Regions from separate parts of the Homo sapiens genome. Here all the other regions are reported to be linked to region 5. The links are microRNA targets in miRTarBase. Many come from high-throughput screens and were not tested one by one. Region 5 holds a microRNA gene; each other region holds the end of a gene's coding sequence.
What was found. The annotated mature microRNA hsa-miR-8079 reads CAGUGAUCGUCUCUGCUGGC and lies in region 5 at 1,643-1,662, opposite strand. An mRNA with a match to its seed (bases 2 to 7 or 8) in the 3' UTR can be bound and repressed. Matches are read on the target gene's strand: a 7mer-m8 pairs with bases 2 to 8, a 7mer-A1 pairs with bases 2 to 7 and ends in A, and an 8mer does both.

Region 1: miRTarBase lists METTL14 as a target of hsa-miR-8079. Seed matches in the 3' UTR shown: 7mer-m8 at 1,547-1,553 and 8mer at 795-802.
Region 2: the mRNA of RBMXL1 is a reported target of hsa-miR-8079. Seed matches in the 3' UTR shown: 7mer-m8 at 2,626-2,632.
Region 3: miRTarBase lists FOSL1 as a target of hsa-miR-8079. Seed matches in the 3' UTR shown: 7mer-m8 at 1,046-1,052.
Region 4: the mRNA of AGO3 is a reported target of hsa-miR-8079. The part of its 3' UTR that is shown has no 7-base or 8-base seed match.

What each region holds. Positions count from the first base shown.
Region 1 is chr4:118,709,825-118,713,945 of GRCh38, reverse strand. METTL14 (methyltransferase 14, N6-adenosine-methyltransferase non-catalytic subunit) reads right to left here. Exons shown (of 11, transcript NM_020961.4): 11 at 1-3,948. The coding sequence ends at 3,644. Among named protein-coding and RNA genes, the nearest start is that of METTL14, 26 kb to the right of the region's middle.
Region 2 is chr1:88,979,002-88,983,122 of GRCh38, reverse strand. RBMXL1 (RBMX like 1) reads left to right here. Exons shown (of 3, transcript NM_001162536.3): 3 at 1-3,667. The coding sequence ends at 469. All of the region lies in intron 2 of KYAT3 (kynurenine aminotransferase 3), which reads left to right. Among named protein-coding and RNA genes, the nearest start is that of KYAT3, 12 kb to the left of the region's middle.
Region 3 is chr11:65,889,485-65,893,605 of GRCh38, reverse strand. It overlaps FOSL1 (FOS like 1, AP-1 transcription factor subunit), which reads left to right. Exons shown (of 4, transcript NM_005438.5): 4 at 310-1,557. The coding sequence ends at 720. It overlaps CCDC85B (coiled-coil domain containing 85B), which reads right to left and starts at 2,933. Exons shown (of 1, transcript NM_006848.3): 1 at 1,971-2,933. The coding sequence starts at 2,822. The coding sequence ends at 2,214. RefSeq lists enhancers at 1,273-1,432, 1,473-1,522 and a silencer at 2,663-3,142.
Region 4 is chr1:36,054,970-36,059,090 of GRCh38, forward strand. AGO3 (argonaute RISC catalytic component 3) reads left to right here. Exons shown (of 19, transcript NM_024852.4): 18 at 1-176; 19 at 668-4,121. The coding sequence ends at 776. Among named protein-coding and RNA genes, the nearest start is that of TEKT2, 27 kb to the right of the region's middle.
Region 5 is chr13:44,194,529-44,198,649 of GRCh38, forward strand. It overlaps MIR8079 (microRNA 8079), which reads right to left and starts at 1,672; the gene lies at 1,601-1,672.

The sequences.
Region 1 (4,121 bases), not on the chromosome of region 5:
TACTGGAAAAGGATGTCCCAATTATCTAGATTGAATGAGGTAGTTTTTCTCTGTGCATTACAGCTAGCAATATTTATACGAGTAAATGATAGAGTTATTGAGAGCAGAAGCAATGTGGTATTTCCAGAAATGAAGTCTTCAATGGAGTCAGTTTACTGGATAAATGTTCTAATCTTTTGAGAAGTCCTAGATTTATGGCCTCAAAACTAACTATATATACACAAGAAAAGTTCAGCCTCTATTACCCAACATCAAAGAGAGGATAATGCTAGTCACACATGAACCCTAAGATTACAGGATTGTTCTAAGAAAGACCTTCTGCATAAGCAAAGGTTTATGTTTCTAATAGATCACAAAATATGAGACACTTTCAGATCAAAGACTACTGTTTAGACTAAGTCCCAACAGGGCTTTCATTTTGTCATGTTAATAAGGATTATATTAAACAAATTAGTAAAGTCTGAAACTATACTTCAAAGGCTAAATCTTATGTTCTAAATTCAGGATGAAAACAGTACAGGTTTTAAATTAAGCGCTGTAACTAACTGAAAGATAATTTAGCAATTAAGATGGGTAGAAAGTATTTTAAAAGACATGAAAAGGAGTAACTCCTAGTAGCAGCTGTGACACCCTGATGCACAATATAGCTCCCAAGTATCCCATCTTTATACTCCATTAACTTAAATGAAACTATAGCATATCACTGACCTGGCCTCAGAATAAGGGAGATAGGAAATAAGGGCTCATAAAGTGGCTCTACTACTTACCAGAGTAACAGAGCAGAACTGCTGCAGTAGTGATCCCTCTCAACTCTGGATCTGTGAGTTGGTTGCCATGCCACACTCCTGCTTGATTCTCACTTCCCAGGTTGACACCTTGACCTCTCACACTGTGCTGTTTCATGATGACCGTATTACATTCTGACTGCCATCATCACAATTCTGTGGTCTAATCTGATTCATTTGTGTTTAGGTATGGTATTCCACACCATAAAATCTGTTCTCCTGACATCATCAACTACCTGCCCTCTTCTTTCTCCACAGTGAAGAAGAGTAAAAAAGTATTCCTACTCAATCAGTACTTTGGGCCTCCTAATCCCCATCCTCTGAAAGGAGGAAGGTCAGTGGGAAAATGGTTCTCACTGGAAATAAATAACAACAGTTGGTTTGGAATACCATGAATTATAATTCTGTAAAAACTCAGACATGCTGATCTTCTAACTTCTAAACTAGGTTATTTCACAATAATTAGCTTCTATCCCCAGTAAGGAATTAGTGCATAAAGCAACTAAAAATTTATTTCTATACAATTTTTTTTTTTTTTTTTGAGACAGAGTCTCACTCTGTCGCCCAGGCTGGAGTGCAGTGGCACAATCTCGGCTCACTGCAACCTCCGCCTCCTGGGTTCAGGCAATTCTCCTGCCACAGCCTCCCGAGTAGCGGGGATTACAGGCGTGCACATGCCACCACGCCCAGCTAATTTTGTATTTTTAGTAGAGATGGGATTTCTCCATATTGGTCAGGCTGGTCTCAAACTCCTGACCTCAAGTGATCCACCCACATCGGCCTCACAAAGTGCTGGGATTACAGGCATGAGCCACCATGCCCAGCATTTCTAAATAATTTTGTGGAATGTAAGACATGTAAATATAAAGAAGACCAAAAATTAGAAGAGGTCAGAGTAATGAAATTTCATTGGAAACCTTTCCTCAATGAATACACAGTCATTGCAAAAACAACACCTCAACCTTTACTGAAAGTGAAAGTTAGCAAAAACTAGTGAATCAATTCCATCCTGCTATTAAAAAGGCCAGATTCATTGTCAAAGGGATAAATTCTGGGTCTTACATTCTTTTTCCACCATCTGCTCTTTTTTAAATAACTTTTTCCTAAATATGGTAGATCATGGCTCCCCTTAACTTTCAACCGACAAAGCAGCCATACCTACCTCTTTCTAAGATGAAATTGTGACACTGATCTCACAGGTGCCTATGCCATGTAAACAGCAGGAATGTCACCTTGGGTAGGCCCAGGGTATGGAACGTAATAGAGAGCCCTGTGTATAGGACAGGGTCACTCCTTAGCTGATACTTCTAAGGACCCATCACAGGCAAGTGGAATTTCTCTATCCTGACTTCATTCCCAGGTCAATGCTGACATATAGAGTTCTAAATCTAGATAATTTGTAATTAGTGAAGTTGAAAATATACCATAATTTCAGCAAAAAAAAAGGGGTCTTGTACTAGATAGTACTAATGGGTTAAGCGAGTTAAATTAATTAGGCTTTTAAGGATCTCAGCCTTATTTCTTCTATCACTCATTCCTTATCTTCAAACTGAGTCTTTGGTGGATGTAATATAATCTCATCTTAGGTATATATGAGCACAGAACGGCCATTAAAATCCATCACAGACCAAAAGAAGAGACTGATTTTAGGTCAGTCCTTTTTCATTTTGTAACAACAGTAATTCTACTTATAGAAAACAGACTCTCAAATCTCAAAAGTTTAAAGTTTCATTAGAAAAATCATAAAAATAAGAAAAGTATTCATCAAGAATGATAATAGTATAATTTCATTATCAAATTCATTTAAAACATGAATTACAGTACAGCAAGAGAAGTGACAGCATAAAGTCTTATATAATTTTAAAAACAAACATCACACCATATGGTTTTAATAAAAGGCAATTGCAGTTCCAATTTCCAAGCTGTATCCTTAAGTTGAGGGTTTTCCGTAGTTGGTTTTACATTAAACTATCTCCATAACAAGTTTAAAGGTGTATGTCATTTCATCACCAAGTATTTTAGTCCCAAAATGTATAAACCAAGCATCTGATAATGAGGTATCTTGTCGCTGCCTCTCTTTTATTTGAGGAATATAAAATTTAAGGTCAATCCAAGTTCAAGTCCACACCACAGTGCTATCTAGCACATGAATATTTGTCCTCCTTTGCTTCTTAGGAAGCGTGATTAGGAGTCATAGCCACAAAATTGAGATTATGATGATAAACTTTTTTTTTTTTTTTAAGTCTGCCTGCTAAGTTCTATCTCTTCTTTCACCCACCCCTGGAATCTCCACCTCCCCTATCAAATTTAGATTTGGGAAGAGTTTTTGTTCAAAGTCTCTTAATTTCTTCAGTATTCAAATTATATCTGAGTTTATTTAAAACTTAAAAAAAAAGAAGAAAAAAGCTTACCTCTTTTTATTGTTTCATCAAGAAAATGTTAAAACCCTGACAAAAGCTTACCATCTTTTCCAACTCTATTCTATCAAGGCCCTGTCAGCACTAGCATGATACCACAGACTGGATCTTTTTCCATTATTTATTCCCAAAAATTAGCAAAATCCTTTGTAATTAGCTGAAGTCTATCAGAATAAATTCAGTCTCTGAAGATGAAGCTACTTGAGTTGTTCCATTCTGTTCACGCACATAACAAAAGGCAGAATCATTCATTTATCCTGAAAAAAACCAGACAGTGTGTGTGACAACTGCAAGCAAGGCTCGCTAAGACATTCTTGCAGCTCAGAGAAATTAAAGCAAAGTGCAAGCTGGAAGTGAGTTCTAAAGTTAAGTCTCCCACTTGAAATTTAATTACAATAAAGAAGGTTAGAGGAGGATGAATAGGTTCAATGTCTTCAACAATTATCGAGGTGGAAAGCCACCTCTGTGTGCTCCTCCACGGCCCCCTCTAAAGCCACCTCTTTCTCCTCGGAAGTTAGATCTATTTCTTTCTCGTCCACGGCCAGCAGAAGTTCCACCTCTTCCTCCACCTCTGGGAGCTCCACCTCCTCGGTCAGATTTAGATTTGGGAGGAGGCGATTTTGGTCGAAGTCTCTCAATTTCTTCTGTACAACCAGTCAAGTAGGAATTAGGAGCACTGAAATAGGATGCATATGTTTCTGCATTGTAGTTGCTATTTGTAAGCGTTGGTCCAACTGTGAGCCAGCCTGAAATGGAGGAAAAAAAGATTATACTTTTTATTTGCAATTCTCTCTTATTAATTCTTTAGAAGCTAGTTCAAATCCCCAATGCATTCTTAAAGATGTCCCCATCATTCATCCAATACTGATCTCTTTTACAGAATGGCACTTAATTGTGGTCATGTTTTAAAGATTTCACA
Region 2 (4,121 bases), not on the chromosome of region 5:
ACCACCACCACGAGATTATACTTACCGTGATTATGGTCATTCCAGTTCACGTGATGACTATCCATCAAGAGGCTATGGCGATAGAGATGGATATGGTCGTGATCGTGACTATTCAGATCATCCAAGTGGAGGTTCCTACAGAGATTCATATGAGAGTTATGGTAACTCACGTAGTGCTCCACTTACACGAGGGCCCCCGCCATCTTATGGTGGAAGCAGTCGCTATGATGATTATAGCAGCTCACGTGATGGATATGGTGGAAGTCGAGACAGTTACTCAAGCAGCCGAAGTGATCTCTACTCAAGTTGTGACAGGGTTGGCAGACAAGAAAGAGGGCTTCCCCCTTCTGTAGAAAGGGGGTACCCTTCTTCACGTGATTCCTACAGCAGTTCAAGCCGCGGAGCACCAAGAGGTGCTGGCCCTGGAGGAAGCCGATCTGATAGAGGGGGAGGCAGAAGCAGATACTAGAAACAAACAAAACTTTGGACCAAAATCCCAGTTCAAAGAAACAAAAAAAAGAGTGGAAACTATTCTATCATAACTACCCAAGGACTACTAAAAGGAAAAATTGTGTTACCTTTTTTAAATTCCCTGTTAAGTCCCTTCCGTAATTTTTATGTTCTTGTGAGGAAAAAAGTAAAACATGTTTAATTTTATTTGACTTTATGACATTGCTTTTCAACAAGCAAATGTTAAATGTGTTAAGCCTTGTAGTACTAGTGTTGTAACTTTCCAAGTAAAGGTGTCCCTAAAGACCACTTCCTATCTGGTTTTTCCCAGTAAATGAGGCAAGCAATTCTAAGATCTTCCACAAAACATCTAGCCAACTAAAATGGAGAGATGAATCATTCTGCCTATACAAACAAGCTAGCTATTAGAGGGTGGTTGGAGTATGCTACTCATAAGATTTCAGGGTGTTTTCTAACTGAAATCTCACTGTTCTCAGTATGCAAAACCTGAAATCAGATGCCTATGTAAGGAAAGTGCTATTCACCCAGTAAACCCAAAAAAAGCAAATGGATAATGCTGGCCATTTTGCCTTTCTGACATTTCCTTGGGAATCTGCAAGAACCTCCCCTTTCCCCTCCCACAATAAGACCATTTAAGTGTGTGCTAAACAACTACGGAATACTAAATAAAAAGTTTGGCCAAAACCAACCATGAAGCTGCAAAGGTGCTTGCTCTTACTCTTTCAAATTTTTGCAACTCTAATGTCTCACTTTTAAAGGAACAGCTTGATTGCAAAGGAGAAAATAGATAAGCAATGAATTTATCTCCAACTTCCTAAAGGCTTATGACTTCTAAAAAGTGAATCTATCAGCATTCCACATCAGATTTAAAGCATCAAATGCCTGTGAAACAGCAAAGATGGTTGAAGATTGTGCTCATTATGTTTGTGGAGTGCTGATTGATTCACAGTAGATAACGCTGGCAGTAAGAGAAATCAAATGCTAAGAGTTGTTGAAGCAGAAGGCGGCTGATTGTTGGTAAGTCAGTGCAGTTGCATAAGCAGTGCTGTCAGAATTGGTTTGGTGCAGGCAATAGATTTTGCCTTCAAGGGTTCCTGTGGATCTCAGGAAGGCATCAGTGTTGATTAACACTCATAACTAGGGAGTGAGTGGTAGTTACTTAAGTAATTGACCAAATGGAAAAGGGGAAGTAATTAAGGAAATTGGTAAGTGGAGGTAGTCAGGAGGTTCTCGTGGTCCTTTACACAGATTTTACAGCTTTGGGTTTCATTTTGTTTAGCTAAAGTCATGGGGACAACTCTTCAATTTAGAACTTAAGATGAATTATAAAAATGATGGATATAAGTGGTAGCTCTATCTGGTGAAGTGTCTTGTCAGTAAGTGAAACATTTTTTTGTGGTGGCTTATCCACAAACAGTTTAGTTGTAGAATAAAACTTATGAGTGACATCTGGAAAGTAACAACCATGCTAAGATGGCAAACACACTGGAAACAATTGGGCCACTTGGCTTTCTTTTGCTGTATTGTTTTATAAGCCTGCTTTACCTCCCCGTCTTGGAAACAAGTTTTAGTTTATTGCTTTGGAGACTAGAGCCAATAGTGTAATGTTCTCAAAGGAAACAGACTTGAGTTGTTGGATTAGAGGAACTAACTCAACTTCTAATTTTTTTTGTTGTAATTATGGCACTGTCATGTTTTAACATTTGCAACTAGGGATAGTAAGTACAACATTTTTAACTCTCATTTGGCAGACTACTACTAATCACAGACCACAAGGGTAATGACCAAATTTATGTGGTTGTTACACTTCCATAGTTGTCTTAGCCGAATCCTTCCATATTCTTATGATTACTTGGGTTAAAGCTTCTGTGAGGACCTTTTGGCTCTTAAGATATCCTAAATATTTAAAATATTTAGATATCCTAAATATAGGATATAGAGTTTGTACCAAATATGAATGAATATTGTTCAAAGCAAGGAGTATGTTAAAATGACCAGACACCTGTTTGATAAATAGTTTACTGAACTAGCAGACGTGTGGAAAAAGAATCAGATCTTGATTCTTCTGGGTTTATACTGGTTGTAAAACAGAATGATATTAGAAAATGTTTTCCTTGTTTAAGTGGTAGTTGAACATAGAACTTGGGTATTATAGATCACTTTTCACTTTTTGGAATGTTTTGTATTGAAACTTAATACAACTTTAACATGGCAAAAAAAAAAAAAATCCAAAATCTATGAGATAATTTTGTTAAAGTTGGCTTGCTTGGGCGGGTGCTTGGTCCAGAGGGAGAAAAGAAGGCATGATTTCAGAATACTCTGGCAGCTTTTTAAATTCAGCTTTATCAAGTTACAGTAAACTGTATCTGTTTAGAATTACAACTCAATGGTTATTTTGACAGATGTATATGCCATGAAGCCACTGTCACCATCAACATGCAGAACACTTCCATCGCCCCCAAAAGATTCCTCAAGTTCCTTTGCAGTCCATCCCTCACGCTGCTGATTTGTCTTTGTCACCATATATTAGTTTGCTTTGTGGTGGTGTTTAGTATTTTATATAAATGGGATTGTGTAGCATGTACTTTTTTGTTTATGGTTTCTTTCACACACAATGACTTTGAAATTCACCAGGTTGCAGTGTATCAGTAGCTTATTCCTTTTATTGCTGAGTAGTGTCCCATTATGTGAATATGCCATTATTTGTTTTTCTACTCACCTGTTGATGGACCTTGGGATTGTTTCCAGTTTGGGGCTACTGTGAATAAAACTGTTAGGAACATTTGTGTACAAGCCACTGTGTAGACATAGGTTTTCCTTTCTCTTGGGTAAATACCTACCAGTAAAATGGTTGGGTTGCATGGCAGATTTATGTTTAATAAAGTAACTGCCAAACTGTTTGTTTTCCAAAGGGGCTATACCCTTTTATATTCCCACCAGGGTTGTATAGAGTTCCAACTGCCAACACTCAGTTTTCAGCCATTCTGATGGGAATCTAGTGGTATCTCATTGTGGTTTTATTTTCATTTCCCCGGGTGACTAATGCTGGTAAGCATCTTTTAAGGTACTTTTTGGCCAGTTGTATATTTTCTGTGAAGTGGCTGTCAAATCTTTTGCCCACTTTTAATTGGATTGTTTGTCTTATTGAGTTGTAAAAGTTCTTTATATATACTGTATTAAAGTCCTTTGTAAGACACATGTTCGTAAATACTTTTCTTTCATTATATGGCTCAGAATCTGGCAACTTTTTAAGAGATACTTGAGCCCACTGAATGATATATAGATCTTATAGTTTTTTTAAGTCAAGCCTTAATAATAATTAACATTTTTTGAGTGTTCATCTCTCAGTCCCTCTATGGCCATGAAGGTGGGAGATGTGACTCTGTTTAGTCTCAAGTAAAGAAATGCAAACTGAGATAATGGGTACAAATGGAGATGAAGCAAAGCCCTGTGATGTTCAAGTTCCTGGTTTCTGTTACCATTCAGTCTGGCTGGACCTCTGCCTTTCCCATGGTAACATGACCTTTCTAATGAATTCTCCCTTTTCATCTAAACTGTTTCAGATTGAGTTTCTCTCACATAACTAAGAGATCTGATTACTATAGCTTCGGAGCTTCTAAGGCATCTTATGCACTTGTCTCTTCCCCACT
Region 3 (4,121 bases), not on the chromosome of region 5:
TTAGCCAGGCTGGTCTCAAACTCCTGGTCTCAAGTGATCCGCCCGCCTCAGCCTCCCAAAGTGCTGGGATTACAGGCCGGAGTCACTGCCTGGTGCCAGCAATCTCCTAAAACGTCTGGGCCTGATGGGAGTTGTGCCCATTTTCTCCCAGGGGCTTATGGGAGTTGTAGTCCAGACTTGCTGGGGACTCTCCACTGCCCCCCCTCTCCCCCCGCCCAACCCCAGCTCCTCAGAACCCTGAGTCCAAACGTCTGCGGCTCTGGGGTATTCAGCCCTCACCTTTCTGACTCCTCTCCTGATCTTCTACAGGAGACTGACAAACTGGAAGATGAGAAATCTGGGCTGCAGCGAGAGATTGAGGAGCTGCAGAAGCAGAAGGAGCGCCTAGAGCTGGTGCTGGAAGCCCACCGACCCATCTGCAAAATCCCGGAAGGAGCCAAGGAGGGGGACACAGGCAGTACCAGTGGCACCAGCAGCCCACCAGCCCCCTGCCGCCCTGTACCTTGTATCTCCCTTTCCCCAGGGCCTGTGCTTGAACCTGAGGCACTGCACACCCCCACACTCATGACCACACCCTCCCTAACTCCTTTCACCCCCAGCCTGGTCTTCACCTACCCCAGCACTCCTGAGCCTTGTGCCTCAGCTCATCGCAAGAGTAGCAGCAGCAGCGGAGACCCATCCTCTGACCCCCTTGGCTCTCCAACCCTCCTCGCTTTGTGAGGCGCCTGAGCCCTACTCCCTGCAGATGCCACCCTAGCCAATGTCTCCTCCCCTTCCCCCACCGGTCCAGCTGGCCTGGACAGTATCCCACATCCAACTCCAGCAACTTCTTCTCCATCCCTCTAATGAGACTGACCATATTGTGCTTCACAGTAGAGCCAGCTTGGGGCCACCAAAGCTGCCCACTGTTTCTCTTGAGCTGGCCTCTCTAGCACAATTTGCACTAAATCAGAGACAAAATATTTCCCATTTGTGCCAGAGGAATCCTGGCAGCCCAGAGACTTTGTAGATCCTTAGAGGTCCTCTGGAGCCCTAACCCCTTCCAGATCACTGCCACACTCTCCATCACCCTCTTCCTGTGATCCACCCAACCCTATCTCCTGACAGAAGGTGCCACTTTACCCACCTAGAACACTAACTCACCAGCCCCACTGCCAGCAGCAGCAGGTGATTGGACCAGGCCATTCTGCCGCCCCCTCCTGAACCGCACAGCTCAGGAGGCGCCCTTGGCTTCTGTGATGAGCTGATCTGCGGATCTCAGCTTTGAGAAGCCTTCAGCTCCAGGGAATCCAAGCCTCCACAGCGAGGGCAGCTGCTATTTATTTTCCTAAAGAGAGTATTTTTATACAAACCTACCAAAATGGAATAAAAGGCTTGAAGCTGTGGCCTGAGTGCCTCACTGGACCCAGAGGCCAATGGGAGAGTATTTGGAGCCCTAGGTCCCAGCCTTAGCTCTACAGACTCACTGCATGACCTTGGACAAATTCTTTGATATTTTTGGACTTTGTCTTATCTGACAAGTGGGGCTACATCCGCTCGGCCTCATCTCCGGGACTGAGGGGAGACAGTCCTCTGGGGTAAAAGCGAAGAGGCTTACCGCCCCTCTCCCCGTGGGGGCCCACAGTGCTGCTGCGTGTGCCACGGAGGGGCGCTGTTATGCCCCCTTCCAGCCTCAGAGGAGGCGGCCGAGTGGTTCTAGGCCCCCAGCACCTGCTTCCTGCCCCATTGTCTTGGACAGGAAGGAGCCGGGAAGGGAGCTGGAGCCACTTCAGGGGCTGGATTAAGGCCGGTCCCGGCGCCCGATGGGGGAAGTCTGGTTTACCACTGCCCCGCATCCCACCCCAGGCTCGAAGTAATGGGGGAATCATTAGTTCTGCAGTCCTTCTGGATGGGAATTGTACCCTGTATCAGCACCCCACCCTCGCCCCAACCCCGGCGAGTACCAAACAGACGCTGCCCAGGCCGTGGGCTCCGCTTCCGTCCGGGTTTATTACCCCCAATCCAACCCCCAGCAAGTCCCTCCGCTCCAGCCTTCAGTCCCCCTGCTGCCCTGCCAGCAAGAGCGAGGGGCCCTTCTTGGTGTCAGGATTTCTTAGTCCATGCCAGCGGCCCCTCCTGCGCAGCCAGGACGGCGTCCAGGTCCCGAGGTCCACAGCGGTCCCGGGGCTCGGGGAGCAATCCGGGCGGGCGTCGGCGTGGAGGAAGCAGTGCCTTCAATCATCGGGGGAACAGGCCAGGGGCAACTGATCCGGACTGCCCACGCTGCCAGTGCTGGAGCTTCCATCGCCTAGGTCGCGGGGCCCGCACGGGGGCAAGGCAAGCTCGGGTGCTGGCCCGGCTCCTGATCCCCCGGCGCCGCTGGGGCCGCCGCGGGGGCCCCATTCTTCGCCCAGCGCCAGGCAGAGCTCCTTAAGCGCTAGGTTCTCCCGCAGCAGCTCCTCCTGGCGGCCCTCCAGCTCGGCCAGCTTCTGCCAACAGCCGCCCAGGTCCTCGCGCACGGCCCGGGATGCTTGGGTCCCGAAGAGCTGCCACTGGCGTGCGGCGCGCCGCCCGCGCTGGCGCTCCGAGTCCAGGAAGCAGCAGAGGTCGCGCAGCTCACGGTTCTCTGCCTGCAGACGCCGGTTGAGCTGCTTGAGCTCGCGGATCTCGCCCAGGTGGCCCTGCAGCTGCCGATTCACCTCCTGCATGAGGCGGCCGCGCTGCACCAGTGCCGCCAGGCGCGCCGCCTCCTCCCGCCGCAGGCGCCGCACTAGCTCTTCCTTGCCTAGCGCCGCCATCTCCTCGTCCGTCAGCTCCTCCAGGCCGCCTGCCTCGGCCTCCATGGCTGGTCAGGCCTCTGGAGCATCGCCCGCCCGCCGCCGCGGCCCAGGAGCCCCACGTCGGGCCCGGCGCCACTCAGGCTCGGGCTCCGGCTCCGCACGCGGCAGGCAGTGGCCGAGGCAGCGTAGGCTGCAGCAGCTACCCGGGCTGGGCACGCGGCGGGGCGCGCGCCGGGGCGGGGCCGCATGTCGTTATGGAAGGACAGCCAATCCGGTGAAACGTCCCCGGAAAGGGGCGGGGCCTGAGCTCAGGGGCCGCCCCCCTCGTTCCCCACCCACTCCGGGTGTTACTGATCCTCGATGTCAAGGAACCCGCGCGTCATCGCCCTCCACATCGGTCTCAACCCGAAACTAGGAGCTTCGAACCTCCAAGTACCGGATCGCCCCAAGCTTGAGCCTAGGCCTCTCGGCTCTTCTGAGAAACAAGATTCAGGCGTCCGCCCCTGACTCCTGCCCATCCCCCACAGAAGTCAGATGGACCGCTCTCCAGTCCCTCTTTACCTTTGATCAAATTCGGAAGTCTCGGCCCACTAAGGATCGCTCCTGGTTCCTCGGAACCCTGAGTCCAAACGTCCTAGCTCACCAATAGACTACCCTCCCTCCCAGGGAGCGTTTCCTGCCTGGGGGGAGGAACATACAGGATTCGTTTGTTCAATAAACGTTTTTTATGTGCAAGGCCCATGCAGAAATAAATTTAACCAAAATACCGATTCCATCCTCAAGGAGGTCGCAGTCTGTCCGGGAAGTCAAGCTGTGTTAAGCAAGAAATAAATCCGGGAGGAGTATGGTCTGAGGGTCCTTAAGAGGGTTCCCAAAAGAGATGCTATCCAAGAGGCTCTGGTAGATCCATAGGACTTTGCCAAGTAAAGAGCTATTTCAGGGAGAGAGAATAACATAGTGAAAGACACTGGTGCCCGAAAGAGCCTAGCTGCTTTAGGAACAATGAGGATAGCTTGGTTTTTGAAAAGCAGATGTGTCGAGAAAATGCTAAGAGAGAGAGAGCGAGGCTTCAAAGGTAGGTAAAAGCCAGATTCTTAAGAACTTCCAGTACCAGGTTGGAGCATTTCCAAAGGCCACTAAGGATGTTAAGCAAGAGAGTAACATTTGTAAGGATGTTAAGCAAGGGAGTAACATTTTAAAATATGCCTTTAACTGGCCAAGATGGTGAAACCCCGTTTCTACTAAAAATACAAAAATTAGCCGGGCGTGGTGGGAGGAGCCTGTAATCTCAGCTACTCGGGAGGCTGAGGCAGAGAACTGCTTGAACCCGGGAGGCGGAGGTTGCAGTGAGCCGAGATCGCG
Region 4 (4,121 bases), not on the chromosome of region 5:
CATGTTTTATGGGATGATAACTGCTTTACTGCAGATGAACTTCAGCTGCTAACTTACCAGCTCTGCCACACTTACGTACGCTGTACACGATCTGTTTCTATACCTGCACCAGCGTATTATGCTCACCTGGTAGCATTTAGAGCCAGATATCATCTTGTGGACAAAGAACATGACAGGTAATATAAAAGCATAACAGGTTCTCACCCAAATCCCAATATTGTCTGCATGGTAGGATTTTCAAGTTCCACAAGCTATTAGCGGAGTCAGTGATCCATGTGAAAAATGATGACAGAACTGACTGCCCAAGGTTTCCTATTGAAATATATTGTCTAGGCTCATTAGTAATAGAATCATGTAGTAACTTAGTTGTTTTACTACATTAATTCAAAGGAGAGATTATTGGTAATAAAGTGATACATTCAGACAGATAGACAAAATGATACGATATCTAGGTTTGCTTCTAATTAATTCTGGGGAGGTGAGAGAAGTAAAACAAAATTGGCCTTGAGTTAATAGTGATTGAAGCTGAGTGATGGACACATAGATTGTTACACCAGTCTCTTATTTGTTAATAATTTTGAAATTTTCTACAACAAATAGTATTTTTCGGAATTATTACATCAGAATAGAAAGTTTGTTTTTGTGTTCATTGCCACTTCTCTTACAGTGCTGAAGGAAGTCACGTTTCAGGACAAAGCAATGGGCGAGATCCACAAGCTCTTGCCAAGGCTGTACAGATTCACCAAGATACCTTACGCACAATGTACTTCGCTTAAATAGTCCAAGTATATTCTCTGAGAGGAAGTACTGAAAGATGAATTGACATACAACGTATGTTTCCAGTGAAGTCAATTGAGTAAGGACACCTCCAGCCATACAGAAACCAACACTGTGTGGGGGCCAAGGTCTGATCCTTATGTTAATACAAGGAAGATTGTTTACTTCATCAAGGAACACAGCATCATTATGCAATATGAAACCAGCCAACTGCTTTTTGTGCGGTCTCCTATAGGAAGTATCGCAATTGTTTTGTTTTCATTTCTTGTAGTCTAACCCTTTTAATGCCTTTACCTCAAGTTGCTTGGCAGCACAACTATCTTTGCAAAAAAAAGTAAAGAAAAAGTAAATGATGGTTTAAAAAATACACACCTTCATGAATAATCAAAGTGATTTTTCAGAATTATGTGTGCAAAAAATTAATGTGCATTCATATATTCTTGTAAAAGGTGTCTGTGTATTTTTAAAATATATACATCCATACTTCATATGCATATATATCTAGATCTGGATTGATAATAGATATATATGTGTCTGTTATATATTTTAGAGTTCATTCCATTGGGGAATTTTCTTTCCCTTTTATTCTACCCCCACTACCGCCTTTATTTCTCTATTTCCCTTGCCTTCATCACCTACATTTTTTTCCCAGTCCTACCAGTGACATTCAAATGTTGATGTATCTGGTTCGTTTGAATATAAAATATGGCAAACTAGAATTCTACTTTTATTTTGCATACCCTACTCCTGACTCCTATCTCATACACAATTCTGAGTTCTCAACTCTTGATATTGCTGTCTTAAGAAACAAAATTTTATATATATATGTATACATACATACACAGACACAGACACACACATATATATACATAAAATAACTTTCTGTGAGAGTGCGTCTCTCCCCTCCCACTCAGAACATACATTTACCATTTGCGCAATTTGTATATAAGCAGTAGCAACCTGAACTATTCTTTTTCTTTTTTCTTTTTCTTTTCTTTCTTTTTTTTTTTTAATGAGACAGAGCCTCGCTCTGTCACCAGGCTGGAGTGCAGTGGCGAGATCTCGGCTCACTGCAACTTCCGCCTCTCGGGTTCAAGCAATTCTCCTGCCTCAGCCTCCCGAGTAGCTGGGTTTACAGGCATGTGCCACCACACCCAGCTAATTTTTGTATTTTTAGTAGAGACGGGGTTTCACCGTGTTGGCCAGGATGGTCTCGATCTCTTGACCTTGTGATCCACCCGCCTCGACCTCCCAAAGTGCTGGGATTACAGGCATGAGCCACCGCACCCGGCCTACTATTCTTTTTCTTTAGTGAGTTTGTTAAAGCTGCTATAAATATAAAACCTGTCAGAAGTTGTAACTTTCTCTCTGGTAAGTGATGTGTATTCTGAAGCCTTCTGTTTCTATGGGTTATACATGGAAATTCTTTAAAGGTTTTATAAAGGGTAAATATTTTAAAAGATTAGAGCTCTGTAGGGTTGAGACCTCTGAAATTGAGTAGAGAGAAGAGTTTGTTGAGGGATTTTTTTGTTTTGTTTTTTGATAGTTTACTTGCTGCCTCTCATACCTTAATGTGATTTTCATATATTTTTTATATATATATATGTATGTGTGTGTATATAAACACATATGTATGTGTTTGGAAGTATAGCTTCCTTTTCTTTTATATTTATTAGAATAGTGCTTTAATAATTATAGAATTGTATTGGCAGCATCTTTTATAGAAATATAATCATGTTTATTTTAAGAACTGACAACTTGTTTTTGCTATCTTTTAGTGCAATAAGCAGTTTTAAAGGAAAGTTGTGTCTGCATCTTTACCATGGATAGTAGGAGGAACAGGCACCTCCATAGTTTAAAAGGGCAAAGAATACAGCCTTAATTTCAGAAGGAAAGTTTTGTAATTTTCAGTTTTAAAGCATATCTTTTAAAATTCATCATGATAAAAGGCTGGACGCGGTGGCTCATGCCTGTAATCCTAGCACTTTGGGAGGCTGAGACAGGTATATCACCGGAGCTCAGGAGTTTGAGACCAGCCTGGCCAACGTGGTGAAACCCCGTCTCTACTAAAAATACAAAAATTAGCTGGGCGTGGTAGTGGGCACCTCTAATCCCAGCTACTCGGGAGGCTGAGGCAGGATTGCTTGAACCTAGGAGGCGGAAGTTACAGTGAGCCAAGACTGCACCATTGCACTCCAGCCTGGGCAACAAAACCAAAACTCCGTCTCAAAAGAAAAAAAAATCATAATGAAAATGAAGTGAAATTGCCTAAATGAGTCCAACTTGAATATTAGAAATAAAGTTGAACTTTTATATAATTGTGAATAGCTTAACATATTTAAATTATTTGCAAATAGATTGTGTTTATTGAAGAATCATATTGGCTAGATGCCCATTTTCATTTACTAAAATGAATCAGGAAAATGCAAGATGATATTTTAAAACTTTTGCTAATGTATCACCAGTATAACTTTCCTTTTAAAATTAAGGTGATAGTAACAAAGGAAGTTAGGACTTTGATCATTTTAAATCAGTTAAATCACTGAAACGTGGGAAATTGTTTTACAAAACTTTTATTGATTACACTTTAAGGTATTAAAAAGTACTATAAAGCTATCAAAACTGAGTTTATCAGTAACATTGGATTCAGGGGAGCTTTGCACTTTGTAACTCATGAAAATTGCATTTTGATTTTTTTTTTTTTTGCACTGGTTCAGAGTATAGATACTACAGATTGTTTCCAGTGGGCATTGTTGTTAGCCTTTCAGAATTCCATCTGCACGTGAAACCTAATGGATTTAGATCTTTAGTTTCTCTCTTACCTGTAATCCACTATTATTGCCAATTCACTGTATTTTGAGCCTAAAATCTGAGCCCATGTCCTCTGACAGGCATGAAATCTTTTGTCCCTCTGCCAGAAAACTAAGAAAGTACTGTATTTTGTATGTTTATTATTTTGAAGTGTCTGAAATGCAATTTACAACACTGTTGCAAAGAACTTTACAAAAGGTAATATTTGTATCGTATATACATTTTTTCTCCCAGCCTTCTCCCATCTCCTCCAGAAAAATTTCCTATAAAGATGGATTTTTTTACACTGAAATTTTACTGAATATAGTCAGGATCATGGGCAAGAGAAGAAAATAGTATACCCAAGATGATAAAAATTTAATTCGTCTATGCTTGATCAGTGTGAGTAAAACATCTTCCTTTATCATGGGAGCTGCACAGATTCATGTGGGAAACTTTAGGGAATGACTGTAGATACCCTTTCTCTATGTACTCTCTCACCTAATTTTCAGTCACTCATATATGCTAGAGTGGAGCCCTTAATTTAAATCTAT
Region 5 (4,121 bases):
TACAAAGGACATGAACTCATCATTTTTTATGGCTGCATAGTATACCATGGTGTATATCTGCCACATTTTCTTAATCCAGTCTATTGTTGTTGGACATTTGGGTTGGTTCCAAGTCTTTGCTATTGTGAATAGTGCCGCAATAAATATATGTGTGCATGTGTCCTTATAGCAGCATAATTTATAATCCTTTGGGTATATACCCAGTAATGGGATGGCTGGGTCAAATGGTATTTCTAGTTCTACATCCCTGAGGAATCGCCACACCGACTTCCACAATGGTTGAACTAGCTTACAGTCCCACCAACAGTGTAAAAGTGTTCCTATTTTTCCACATCCTCTCCAGCACCCGTTGTTTCCTGACTTTTTAATGATCGCCATTCTAACTGGTGTGAGATGGTATCTCACTGCGATTTTGATTTGCATTTCTCTGATGGCCAGTGATGATGAACATTTTTTCATGTGCTTTTTGGCTGCATGAATATCTTCTTTTGAGAAGTGTCTGTTCATATAGGCATGGGCAAGGACTTCATGTCTAAAACACCAAAAGCAATGGCAACAAAAGCCAAAATTGACAAATGGGATCTGATTAAACTAAAGAGCTTCTGCACAGCAAAAGAAACTACCATCAGAGTGAACAGGCAACCTACAGAATGGGAGAAAATTTTTGCAACCTACTCATCTGACAAAGGGCTAATATCCAGAATCTACAATGAACTCAAACAAATTTACAAGAAAAAAACAAACAACCCCACCATCAAAAAGTGGGCGAAGGATATGAACAGGATCCCTGCTTTCTTTCTCCTCTTTTTTGAGATGTTTCTTCATTTTCTGGGTTTGAGCTATAAGCTTTCTAAAGATGACATAGGTGGAGTTCAGCAAAGAGAGGGAGGAAATGAGTGTTCACTGGTTGGTTGCTGCTTCCTCTGTACCTGTGGCCCGGCCGCCTGCATGTGGTGCCTCTTCTCATCCCCAAGAAAACCCTGCAAGAGTGGTGGGCCCTTAGCCTTTGCTGTTTTGTACATGATGTCCCTTTTGTCTGTGATGTTCCTTTTGTCCATGATGTTCCTTTTATCTGAAATTCTTTTTGATTTCTCCCTCCACTCACCTTCCAAATTTCTACTCCTTTTCAAAGCCCAGTTCAATTACTATTTCTTTTGTGGCATCTGCCTGAATTCCCCAAGCCCCATTAATCCCTTTGTCTGAATTTCATGGCACGAATGTCATCCTTCTATTAGATTATTTACCACATTACAGTACACAGTGTAGTTTGCTAATTTCCCTCCCTGTCCCCTAAGGTTGTCTTTGGGGTGCTAGAGGACAAGATGAGGTCTTATCTCTCTCGGCATCCTGACATCTATCACAGTGCCTAACCCATAGCAGGTGTTTCACAAACATTCCTTTATCGTGTAATAGCTAGCGTTTGTTAGCTCAGCGCATTATCTCAGGCAGTCCTCCATATAACCCTATGGAGTTGGTCATTATCTGATGAGGAGAGTGAGCTTTGAAGAAGTTAAATAAATTGCCCAGGACCACACAGGCAGAATCAGGACGTTAACCAGCACAGACTGAATCTCGAGTCCACACTGTGCTGCATGGCCACCCTCTGGAGGCCTGTGATGTCCCCTCTGACTGCTGCCCTACAGCCAGCAGAGACGATCACTGAACCCAGGCACTTGCACAGCCCAATGCTGAAGAAGGCAGGTGTGGATGCATGAATGAAAGGTGAAGGAGCAAGTGAGTAAACCCACTCTCTGAGTCTTTCATACAATCCAGCTTTCATTCCTGCTCATTCACCCTACCCTCTGCTCCTCCCTTTTAGTCCCCTAAGTACCCCTCCAGCCCTGACCTCCCTTGTCTCACACTGACTTCCTGCAGCACCTCATTGGTGGGTTCCTCAACCCACAGCCTCTTTTTTCCTGTCTCCCTCCCTGTGCCCCACAACACATACAACACCTAAAAATTAATTCTCAAGCCCTGTTGTCAGATCCACACTCCAGGATTGATTTTGGCTTCTGACTCATTGTTGAGTAAAATCTCAGCACTCAAGGCTAACTGTCATTTCCCTACATGTATCTATCACTCTAAACCAAGCAGCGTTGTTGACTGCCCCTGGCCTGTGATTTGCCTGTGTTGCCTCCAGATCTTTTCCTGAGCTATTCTTCTGTGTTTTGAACACCTGTCCCATATCAGGAAATGAGCTGGGTTCTGGGAATACAGAGATTAAAACTTCAGTCTCTGATGCTCCTAGATTAGTGCAAGACAGCTGAAAGAGCAATAACAAAGTCCCATCACTATGGCAGGTGATTCAGAGGAAAGCCCAGGTTGCTATGGAAGCACCTAGGTCATCTACCTTCCCCATCTCCAATAACATCAGCCCTCAGAGCCTTCTCCGTCTGACCCGACTTACCTCTCCTGGGGGGCTTTCTGTGCCTGACGCTTCATCTGCTCCTCTCATTTATGCCAAATTTTCAGAATATATCTGTATTTGTTGATTTATTCATCTGCAACAATATATTTGCTGAACGTGCCTCCTCAACTGGTGAACTGTAATGGGGGAGGAGAAGACAAAAGAAGGCCAACTGGAAGAAATGAAAATGGTGTGTCTCCTTAAGGAGGTTGGATCCCAGAGAAGGAAGATAATGGGAGAGAGAGAGGTGTGGCTTTTGTTGGGCTTCCTCCTAACTATCCATTTTGGTGATGGCTGAGTGTGTCCTGAAGAGAAAGGATTACATGTAACTCAAACCTGATCCACAAAACTTCTGTAGTCCAAGCAACTTCGTGTGAGACCCTTTAAAAGAGCAGACCACAAAGTTAGGATGCAGTGGCTATACAGCCGAGCTGACCACTGAGCACAGGAGACAGAGCCTTGGAACTCTCAGAGATACTGGGGCGGGGAGGGGCTCGTATTGTGAAGGGAGGACCAAAGTCCCACAGGGGCATGCAGCTGGGCAAGCAAAATCTGGTCTGCAGTCGTCCGTCTCACTTGGGTCTAAGGCTAATGAGGCCTGGGGAACACTCACAAGGAGTCTAGTTATGGCTCTGTAGTAGTTTACCCATTGACTGAAGCAAAACAGTCTCCACAAGAGATCCCAGGAGAAACAGAACAGCTGGCCAGGCTCACCTAGCTGGTCCCATAACTTTTCCCACCATCCTGCCAGGCAAACCTTGTCATCTCAGCACCTGGATCCAAGACACTTTGCTGCCATGTTTCCTCACATCTCATCCTCTCTCCCTTCCTAGTCAGAATTCCACATTTGTCACTTTCTGACCTGCATTTGACAACACTCAATGTTGTCTTATCCAAACAACATCTATGATTCAGCCTTCTTGCCCTCAAGTCCAGCATGTTCCCCTCTGGCTCCAAGCCCCTTTCCCTCCAGCCTTTTACAACCACATCACTCCATGTAAGTCACTTGTCCTTTGAACCAGCTGATCTGTGGGCTGAGGAAAGGGTGCTGGGAGCTGAGCTGTAGATGTTCTCTTTGCTGTCTGTCATTCTAGGGGCTTGCCAACATTGGGCAGAGTCTCCTGCTGGCTGAAACTCTCTCACCACAAAGGATTTCATTTTATGTCAGCAGTTTCATAGGCTGAGGGAGTGATAGAGATAAGAGAAACATGAAGAGAATATGCCACAATGACTAAACTCAAGATAGATTTGGGGCAGAGATGTAGAGATTTGGTAAAAGTCCAGAAATCTAAATGCTGGGTGTGCTTACTAAGTGTACCTGTGCATTAAGCTAAGCAAATGGATTCCCTGTCTCCTTGACAACCAGAATACAAACATGTCTTACCTGAATTATCCATTCTCTTTGCCAAAGCCAGTGCATAATTAGTTGGGGAAAAATATACATGCAAGATGAAAGAGTCCACAGCTCTTAAACAATATCCCTCATTGCTCTCTGGTGGAGAGTTCACCTACTCAACCTCACTAACATCTCCCTTGCCTCATTTATCAGCCATGCCTTTCACTTACTGGTGAAAAGCTAATATAGCCTTGCTTCTCCCTCTCAGTCAACACTATTTAAGGGACTGATAAGAAAATTCACTAGGAAGGTTTTTCTGGAAAGCTCTCTATTTATAGAGACACACTGAAGTAGCCATAGACACCAACTGTTAAATTG